Regions from separate parts of the Homo sapiens genome. Here region 1 is linked to region 2. Evidence: fine-mapped expression QTL. A gene starts in region 2. The other region holds a variant in brackets. All regions are shown on one strand. Distances are between the middles of the regions. Region 1 has its middle 22 kb from the start of UNC93A. Region 2 holds the start of UNC93A (unc-93 homolog A).

Evidence for each region. PIP is the estimated chance that this variant, and not a neighbour inherited with it, causes the effect.
Region 1: its variant is fine-mapped to the expression of UNC93A in unexposed skin (GTEx, PIP 0.92).

Annotation. Positions count from the first base shown.
Region 1 is chr6:167,266,886-167,272,259 of GRCh38, reverse strand. It overlaps a transcript of UNC93A not described here. Among named protein-coding and RNA genes, the nearest start is that of UNC93A, 22 kb to the left of the region's middle. RefSeq lists an enhancer at 3,411-4,610. The variant T/C (reference allele first, on the strand shown) is at 2,893.
Region 2 is chr6:167,288,819-167,294,192 of GRCh38, reverse strand. UNC93A (unc-93 homolog A) reads right to left here and starts at 2,878. Exons shown (of 8, transcript NM_018974.4): 1 at 2,617-2,878. The coding sequence starts at 2,703. RefSeq lists enhancers at 1-616, 5,278-5,374.

The DNA of each region.
Region 1 (5,374 bases), 22 kb after region 2:
TAGAACATTCTCGATGCCCTGTGGGATTCTGAGGCAGCCATGATGGTGGGAGTTCAAGGTAAGTAAAGAGCAGCAGAGTCAGCCACCCCCAAAGACACCACTTTGGCATAAGGATCATTTTGAGCTGAAGACAATTTTTAAGATGTAGATATAAGTGAAGCTCTCTCTCCTGCCCCTCTTTGCCTAAAAGCAGGACATAATTTAGTGAAGGTGTCCCCACTCCTGTCTCTACCAGGAAGGACAGAAGCCAATCACTGGGGCAAGTCTAGGCCTTATCAGCCTGGAGACAGCACTGGAGGAATCTACTCAGCAAACTTGACTACTAGGAACTAGCCCTTATCCTCCATTCATTTCCCATGTGTTTAGCTGGCTGCAGTTTGCTGCCCTAGAAGCCCAAAGGTCTTTTCCTTTGTCTTGTCACTCCTCTAAAATTTGTCATTATTTTGTTTAGAAGCTCTATCAGCCCAAGTTCTAATAAACCCTTGGAGTGACTCATGGCTGAGTGCTCCCATGTGTGTGCATGATGAGCATGTTAATAACCTTGTTTGTTTCTATTTTGTCAACCTGTCTTTTGCCATTCTAATTTATAGGACCTCAGCCAGAGAACCTAGGATGGGTAGAAGGAAAAGGAAACTTTTCCTCCCATATGTGTGTCCCACTTATGATAGATAAGTGGGGGCTGACGAGCCTGTAAACCAAAAATACAACTGCCCTGAGAGGCCACGCCACCTCCTTGAATCAGAAGTTTACAGACAGAAGGCAGGAAACAGAGGCAGCCACGGAGCCCATCCCACATCTCACCTGTGCTGTTTCCTGAATGGCCCTTTCATTAATCCTGGAGATGATGGCACGGAAGGGCAGGCAGAGGGCTGCAGCCTGGCTCCTTTCCTTCAGTCCTCCTGATGAGGTTCTCGCTCTTTCTTAACTCTGGCCCTCAGCAGAAGCACCTGGAGACCTTGCTAAACTCTGCACAGCTGAGCCCCGCCCAGAATTGCAATTCCCTCCCTTGCTGCCTAATGACTCCCAGGTGCTTTCCTTCAGGCCTCCTGTTGAGGTTCTCTGTCTTAAGCTCTGTCTTAACTCTGGCCCTCAGCAGAAGCACCTGGAGACCTTGCTAAAATCTGCACAGCTGAGCCCCGCCCAGAATCGCAATTCCCTCCCTTGCTGCCTAATGACTCCCAGGTGCCGCGACGCTGCCAGCCAGGGGAACACACTGCGGGAACCCATGCCTGGCACAATCCTTCCCATCCAGGCCTCCGCCCACGTGGCAGCCCATCCCTGCAACACCTGTATCTTCCTGGACAACTGAATTCAAATGCCCCTTTGTGTTAGTTTCTTGAGGTCGCCACAACAGGAACTTCTTGTCCCCCAGCCTGGAGGCCGGGAGTCTGCACCCACGGTGTCAGCCGGGCCAGGCTCCCTCTGCAGACTCCACAGCGGGAGGGCGCCAATGCCTTGCTCTTAGCTCTGGTGTTCGGGGAAACCCTCGTTTGTAGACGCGTCACCCCAACCTCTGCCTTCGTCCTCAAGTGGTCACCTTCTCCCCGTGCTCCCCTCTCCTCCCATGAGGACATTGGTCACATGGAACTCGAGGCTCACCCTGCTCTAGTTGACCCCAGCTCAACTTGATCAGTTCTGCAAGTGAGGGCTCGTTCACAGGCACCAGGTTAGGGCTTCAACATACCTTTCCGGGGGATGCAACTCAACCCACAACCCTTTCTCCTCCGAAGGTCTGTCCATGTCCCCCACACCGGAAGGCTCCCCTTTCCCCTAACCCCCCATGTCCTTCGTGATGGGGCCCTGCTCCCTCATCCCACTGAAAGCTCCCTGACAACAGCACTCATCTTGTTCACCTCTGGGCACCCCACAGCCCTCCGCATTGCACCCTCTGCTCATAGTTAAGGCCAGTTTGTTAAGAGATGGCATCGGTGATTATGACGCCTGGCTGACTTGTGACAAGTTCTGTCTTAAGAACTTAACACAGAGCTTCACAACAGCCATTAACAGGTATGTGCCATCATTATCCCTGTCTTAGACATGAAAAAAGAGAGATGCAAAATGATTAGGTGACTTTGAGAGCCCATGGTCAATAGATGCCACAGCCAGACATGAACACAGATGGATGGGTCCTCCAGAGTGTGCCAGATATAAACGCGGTGGGGTGGGGACTCCGGACCATGTGAACGCCCCCCCCCCACCCCCACCCCCACCCCGTGCAGCCTCTGGGCAGTCCTTTGTTCTGACTTCTCAGCTTTCTACCAGGGCCAGCTGCAGAATTTAGGGGCCCAGGACAAAACACAAATGCAGGACCCCCTGTACAAAAAGCAGGAAAAAGTGCCATTATTGGCCGGGCCCAGTGGCTCACGCCTGTAATCCCAGCACTTTGGGAGACCGAGGCAGGTGGATCACGAGGTCAGGAGATAGAGACCATCCTGGCCAACACGGTGAAACCCTGTCTCTACTAAAAACACACACACACACAAAAAAAAGCCAGGCGTGGTGGTGGGCGCCTGTAGTCCCAGCTACTGGGAAGGCTGAGGCAGGAGAATGGTGTGAACCCAGGAGGCGGAGCTGGCAGTGAGCCGAGATTGTGCCACTGCACTCTAGCCTGGGCGACAGAGCAAGACTCTGTCTCAAAAATAAATAAATAAATAAAAATTTTTTAAAAAGTGCCATTATGGTAGTAAAATATAAAGCTTTTTCCTTCCCTCTGCAGTCTCTTTCCCTTCTTTTCATTGGGTTCCTTTATTTGCCACATTGTCATTCTAAGAAGGAAAATTAAAAATTATTAGTCAACTTATTTTGTGCAATGCCAATTTCAAATGCAAATATAGGACCATTTATCTCATTTGCAAAATCACCAAAATTTCTCAATTTGCAGTTCGTAGCTTG[T/C]ACATGTTTTCTTCTTATCAGAACAGTGAGGCACTACACAAAACTCCCTCAACTGTATCCACTACAGCTCCTGATCCAAGACTGGGTCTCTGGGCGTCGCTCACCGTGGTTCCCTCAGCACAGAGCCATGATGTTCTGGCCAGCACGGGCGCCTCACTCGCCCATGCAAGCCCTGCACAGCCTGCCTGTTCCGCCGGTCTCCAGCCACGCTCATCTCGCTGGGTTTTCCCAGCCTGCTCACCTCTCAGCCTCGCTACGGCTGCCCACACATTCCTCTCTCAGTCACACATTGGGGCCCCTCCAGCTGCTTCGTCCTGGTCCCAGTGGGCCACCAGGTAAAAGTGTCACACTTGTAAATGTTCAATTGATGCAAATTCACATTTAAAGTTTGTTTACTCTGTCCCTGCACAAAAGCTTTATTTTAAAGTTACACGATTAGACAGAAGTGGACCTTTGTCCTGGCTGAGGCCCTCCCATGGGTACCCACCCCCTGAATGGCTGATGCAAGACGGCAACAGTGTTGACTGAAACCAGGCAGTTTCAGGCCACAGCCAACTGGGGACACAGCAATGAGTGATGAACGGTCGGGGTCCTCTATGCCGCGCCATGAAACCTGAACTAACCAGACAAGTTTATCCAGAGCTGGACACGACCCTTTGGGGGCCATGCAGCTTTATTATTATTATTACCATTATTATTATTATTATTACTATTTTGTAGAAATAGGTCCTCACTATGCTGCCTAGGCCAGTCTCCAACTCCTGAGCTAAAGTGAGCCTCACTCCTTGGCCTCCCAAAGTGCTGGATTGACAGGCAGGAACCACTGTGCCCAGCCCCCACACACATTTTTTAGTCATCACTGTTGGGGTTTGGTCCTGGGTGTGTTGCTGGGCCTGACGGGAAGTTCCTCAACAGGTTCCTGATGTGAAACCCCGTGTTTCTCCCCTGAAAGGGGGCATCCAGTTTCTGTGTTGCTCTAATCTCTGAGACAGACCTCTGCGTTTCTTCCCTTCTGCTATCACCTTGTTGAAGAGGGTCCTGCTCTGAGGGCTGCCAGAGGTGCCTGGGCCTGCGGAGATGCTTTTTCTTGGAAGCAAAGGCTGTGTGCAGCCATTCTGGCCACCGTCCCTGGTAGGAGTCCTCCCCATGCTTCTGGGAGCCGGGGCCACTGCTTGCCTCTGACTGAACACGCACTGGCAGAGGCCTAGAATGATGAGCTCTTACAGTGTGACTGCAGTCCGGGTCCAGCCAGGGAAAAGCTTCATCCTAATTATGACTGTGGGACTCAGGCATGTCTGTTGTTAGGTGGAGGCTTGATCGACAGGCTCAGCCGCCCTGGTGTTCTGACTCTTGTTCCACTCACTGCACAAAATGAAGCTGGCGGAATATTGCTACAAAAGAATGATCGTGGCAGGAGGCGGGGTAGAGCAATGTCAGGTCACGGTGCGTCTTGCACCGAAATATTAAGGCAGTTGTAATGATCTTTGTCTCACAGAAATGAACAGAGTGATGAAGGAGGCTCAGAGAAAGGCAGCTGAGAAGAGCAACAAGGTAGAAAGGCTGACTTAAAGTAGAGAAATAAAAATTCATCCAGCACCTCCCAAGGTCGGACATTGGTCAAGACACGCCCAAATAGTTCAGGTCATTTAACTTTGCTCAAATTCCTCAAGGCAGTTATCACGACTCCTCCTGCTTTAGAGGTGAGAATGCCAAGGCTCCTGAGGGCTGAGTAAGGAGCCCTGGTTTGTTTGAGTGCAGGTAACACAACAGGTGTTAAAGCCCAATCTTCAGGGTCTTAATCCAACAGAAGTTAACTTTCGCTTAACTTCCCATCCTGTCCGCATAAAAGGGCTTCAAGTCCTCAGAAGGTTCTGGATTCAGCCTGCATGGAACAAAGGGCCCCTCTGCTCATTTCCATTGCTGAGCCTGACAGGAGAGGCTGGGATCGGAGTTCACCTTGAACCTAGGGTGGAAGGGAAGTGCATTTTGTGAACACATAGCACCCAGGCCAGGCACCCAAAGCCACACAGCTGCAACAGCAGCCTACAGTCCGACGCGGGTCAGGCAACGGAGTCCAAGCTCACGTGTTCTCTGACTTGAGTTTTCTGAACCTCAGAGTCCTCTCCTATAGAATGGAGAAAACGTCTCCTTCACAGGATTGCTGCGAGGATGAGCAGAGAAAATGCCTGCAGAGGACATTCCTGGATGCTTAGTTATGGACAGGGCACCAGGAGAAAGGGTGATGCTGGAGTCTCTCTTTAGTTCTTAGGGATCATCAACAAAGAGGGTGTCTCCTGAATCAAAGATCACAGCAGAGTGTGTCCGAGAGGCCGCCTCTCACCTCCCTCCCTGGCCTCGCACACGCAGTCGGGACTGGACTTCTGATGGCAATTCAGTGACGCACAATCGAAAACCAGCAGCGCGGAACAGGAGATGGGAGCAAACTAAGCTACCGTTTCACTAACTTCACAGAGGAGCCTGA
Region 2 (5,374 bases):
GACAGGATGGGGCTGGAGACTCTGCCAGAACTCATCTGTGAGGAGCCTGCGTGCTCCCAGGGAATGTAAGGGGTCCTTCAGCCCATGGGGAGGCCCGAAGGATATGAAGCAGCTGAGTGCACATGAATGATTTCTTCCTTCACCAAATATCCATCGCCCGCCTCCGAGTGCCCGTCACTGTCTAAGGTTTGAGAATGGACCAGGGACGTGGCCCTCGTATCCTGGAAACTGCAGGCCGCCACCACTGGTGGAGACAACCCGGGCAGGCACACACCGCCACGAGGGTGCTGGGTGCCCCATCCAGACCTCAGCTCCAGGGCAGGGTGGGGAGAAGGAGGTGACCTCCAAGTTGAGAGCTGAATGAGAACTTGGAGGCCTGCAGCCAGAAAGGGTGAAAGGAGGTGGTGGCTACAGGGGGAGGTGCCACAAAAGAGCGTCCTTTGTCCTTGGACGAGGGGACCTAGTCCAGACCAGGGTGAGGACTCAGGAGAACTCTCTGGAATGAGGCCCTGTCTTCTCACTGGGGCTGCTGAGCTCTGAGGAGGGAGCCTGGGGATGCATGTGCCTTGTTGGGGCCTGAGAGCGAAGCCAACCCCATAGTAGCCTTGGGGTTCTTGGAGAGAGGTGGGCTCGGCTCCTCAGCATGCTGGGGCAAAACCAATCCTGAGTCACTTCTATCTGAACACTCTGTGTTGCCCATGCCAGTCCTGAGTAGCAGAGACAGCTGTCCCAGTTAGAGGGTTAAAGCACGTCCGCATGCTCAAGGTCAGCTGCCGACAATAGGCCCGGGTGGGGCCTCGAACCAGGGTGGAGCTGGAGTGGAGGGGACCCTTCCACAGTCCTGGGGCCCTGCAGAGAGGGAGGTCTGGCTCCCCTGCATCTCCAGTCTTTTGAGAAGGAAGGGCTGACATCATGAGACAGCAGCTCCCACTTCCACCAGCCCAGGAGGAGTGGGAAGTGCTGGCGGGGCGTGGGACAATCTACTCCCCAGGCAGCTGCTCACAGCTGCGGAGCTCATCCAGATGCCACCATGAGTGATTCCCCAATGAGGCACCCCCAAACTGGGGCTGAAGAGGCAAAGGGTTGTCTGCCCGCATTTGCCCACAGCCTTGGGTCCTGCCGTCACAGCCTGAGAGGAGGGACCCCTGGCAGCTCCCAGCCCCCTCCAGCCCCCTTCCTCTGGCTTCCAAGTCCAGAGGCCAATTTTCAGACAGTGGCTGAGCCACAGCGGATCCACCAGAACTGGTTCCTAGGAATGCTGACCCCAGGGGAGCTGTCGGTTCCTAGGAATGCTGACCCCAGGGGAGCTGCTGTGCCAGGAGGACAGCAGGGTCTCCTTCTGCAGGCAGGTGAGCTTTCTAAAGAGAAAGGGCTACTGACCAGTCCACATCCTTGAGACTCCCTCCTTCCAGAAAGTGCACACCAACCACATTCAACATGCACTCACCTCAACCCAACAGGCATTTCACTCACACCAGCATTCTGTGACAACAACACAAAGTTCTGGGCAAAGCAGGGACTCCAAAAGTAATGAACCATTGCGGCAAGAAAAGAGACTGTGTTCCCTTCCACTTGACTTTGAGAGTCACTGTTGGCTGCCATTTTATCCTCTGTAAGCCTGATCAGAAATAGAACCAGATAGGAGTTCAGCAAAAGGAAACATTACTTGAGAATTCAGGACTGAATTCCAGCTTCCTTGGCAACCCAGGAGTCCCAAGTGTTTGCACAACAACAGTGAGAGGAGAAACCTCGGATTCTGAGTTCCCAGGTGTGCTTTTCTGGTTCCATACTATGCACACAGTAGGTGCCCAATTCTTATTCTTCATTGACGAACCATGTAAGACCACACTAATTTGTCATCAGAAGCTCTGAAATGTTTTATGTGACCACACCAGGCCACAGGGTACAACACTGTGGCAATGAATAAGCCGGGGGAGTAACAATAGCCCTGCTTCCTGACCAGCCCTTGGAATTCCCTGGAATTCAGACTGGAATCCAGGTAAAGATCAGACTTGAAATGTAACCAGCTTGGGAAAATGTGTCAGGTCTATGTCTAGGTGCACATGATGAATGCTGCAGCCTTTCGGAGAATGCCGTTTGGCTTTTTCATGGGCTCACGGAACTATGGAGGAGAGCATGCCATAAGGAGTTCAAAGTATAGAGAGATCATGTTGTCAAAGTTCACAGTTTAGCTTAGAGTAGGCTTGGAATGTATAAGGTCTAGTGACATTTGATAAATTCACATGGCTGCCCCTAACCACAAAGCCAAGGGCATCCAATCAATCATAGAATTCACAATGACTTTTCCTGTGTCTCCTTTTAACCACCCAAAGGCAAAGAATGTCCCAACAAATCACAGTCCCAAGACCCCTGCTGTCCTTGTCCAAGAGCAACGTGCACCTCGCTGTTGTGCAATCCTATTGAGACGTGAGTGGGAACTGCTCACTGTAGGACTGCATCTGAGAACCACTGTTTGTTTTAGAGGATTTGGTACAGAGTGAAAAAGAAACACCAGGTGAATTAGATTTTTCAAATTTCCAATTCATTATTGTCTGTGACCACAGGGATTCTTGGAGGCCAAGAAGTTCAGGTAATTTGATGACCGGACACACATACCTGCAGGCTCTGCAGACCTCCATAGGCTGTAAAGAGAAGCAGGAACCCAAAGGAAACCACAAGGACGTTCCTTAGACTTCTGTCCATTGTGCTGGATGAAAAGATCAATCACCAGTGAACACGTAAATTTGTAGCTCCCTAAAAGAAACCAATTGAGGCATGGGAAAAACAATCAGTACCAAGAAGTCCCATTCTCTCTCTCATCTGAGCTAGAGGTGAAATGTTAGAGGTGTGTTAGTCATTAAGACTGTCACTCGTTAATGAACTTGGTTATCACTGACCCCATGAAGCATACGGGAGCTCTGTTACTCATTTACCTTCTCTGTGATCCACAATGTCCACTTTGTATGGGGCAAAAGATCATTACTCTTACCAGCTTCTAGTTAATTGCGCTTTTTTCCTATTAAATTCTAATAGACATGGTCCAGATGGTAAAGTGATATGTTTCACTTTTTATGTGTATATAGAATAGAACCTTCCACAGTAAGAGAAACTGTCAGAAGTTGTCAGTGGTGCAGAATGAGGACTTCAGTCTTAAAGAACAAAGCATAAATGTCAACTTCAAGACACATAGTTCAACTTCTGAAAAAGAGCTAACGTGATTGTAAGATCCTGGGGCCAAAGTCTTAGTATTGCAAAGACTGTACAGTTTCACAACACAGTACAGCAATTATTAAAAGAAAAAACAACTTACATGAGTATAGTACTTTACAATATGCAAAGAATTTCATGCATTATTTCATGTTACCAACAATAGTGCTATGCTAATGATCATTAGAAATCTTAGACCCATTATAAGACAGGAAACAGCTTCAGAAAAGTTAAATGATTTGGTATTTTGGTCTGGGGCAGTGTTGTCCAGTATGGTAGCCACTCGCCACATGTGACTATTGAGTTCTGAAATGTGGCAAGTGCAACTGATAAAATGAGTTCACAACTGCATCTCCTTTTAGTTAATTACAATTAAAATTTAACCACATGTGGCTAGAGACAACTGTATTAGACGGGGTAAGTCTGGAGCTTTAAGCAACTTACCACAAATGTCATAGCTAATAAGCAAGAAAAATTATTTTTATTCAATTATAAGTAAAACTTGATGTCTGCAGATTGTTTCCAAAGTTCTGTGAAGTCAGCCATTTCTGTCTAGATTAGATCTATAAGGCAAATCTCGCAGGTAAGTCTAGCATCCTGGCAACACTACTCAGGGAAGCTTGCCAGACCATCAGAAGATCAGGGCCAATGATAAATGGGGTAAAGTTCTTGTCACTTAATGTATTTCAGTGAAAATGAAAGTTTTATGAAAACAATAGCTTTTTATATTAACTAAACATGGACTATCATGCTTACATAGACATAAGAGCCACGCAGTCTAGCAAAGGGATTCTGAGCATGGAAACAGATGAGCTCCACGGGTTCACACCCTAATCCTGTAATTTGTTAGCTAGGTGATCTCAGGTGGGTCACTGAGTCACCGAACCTGTTTCCTCTTTAAAAAGGAGGGTTGCAAAAGTTCAAGACTTGGATAATTTTGAAAGCCCCTAGAACAGCACCCGATATATAGCAAAAATGTTAACTTCAAGATACATATATGGTTCAACTTCACCAATAAATGTTATCACCAATAAATGTTAATTGACTAAGATGATATTTTGACTTTCAGAGACAATACAAATTAGAATAATATGTAAAGAAATTAGCATAATGTGGACTTCTTCATACTAACCGTGTTATCGATCAATCAACTTGGACCTTATTTTTATTTTTTGGCAACACTTTAGTTTACTTCAGTTCTGGCCTCTCATTAGTTCCCATGGATGACCTGTATTTTGATATTAGAGGACCTTCCTGATGTTTTATTGCACTGTCTGCTGGTCTTTCTCCCTTGGTTGCTTCAACTCACCAGCCCCATCCTCTAGGACTCGCTCTCTGGCTCTGGGGGCTGTTTCCAGAGGCTGCTCTTCCCCTCCCCTTCACCAGCCTATGCCTTCTAAGGAGCTTCCCTTTGTGCACAAATAAACCTGGTCTGTTTCCATCCTTCCCAGCCACACCCTCCCTGTCCCTCCAGCACTTCTACTAGGATTGAATTTCTGAAACCATGGCTTCAGTTACGTCTGCTTTTTCTCTCTTTTCCTCCCAGTTCCTCCCCTTTATCTATGTTAAAAGGGATTTTTTTTAAATGAACAGTATATTTCACTCTCTGCCTTTTCTCTGTAGCAGAATAAAATGCTTCTCTTAGAGGAGATAATTCCCAGCACCCCTCAGTGTTCCTGTGACCAGGGCAGGTCTTAGACATGGTCCCCCAGTGGTCTCGTCATAAACAAAGGGACACTCTTATCTTACCCGACCCCTGAGGCTGCCTTCCCGCAGCCTACACATTCCTGCAGACATGGAGTTGCCTGAGGGAAGAGAGTGCAACCTCTAGAAACCCAGAGCTGGCTTGGCTCTCAGAGCTGGTTTTGGCGTTATGAGCTCTGTGTGTGCACTGGAGCCATGGCCTGGCCCAGGGCTGACCTGCCAAAGGCCAAAGACGGGTACGTGTAAAGGATTTAAAAGGTGTCAATAGCCACTTCAGTCCTTAAAATTAACATCTGGGCTCTATCAGCTTGAGAAAAGAGGTGGTTCTGTAGATCTGCTCGAATCTGCAGGTCACTCATTGGACGTTAAAATGACAGATGCCCTGGGTGATACAAAGCTCAGAGCACGCGTGTTCCGGAAAACCGAGACTTCACCAGCCACTAGATGGCACCGTTTTGCTACG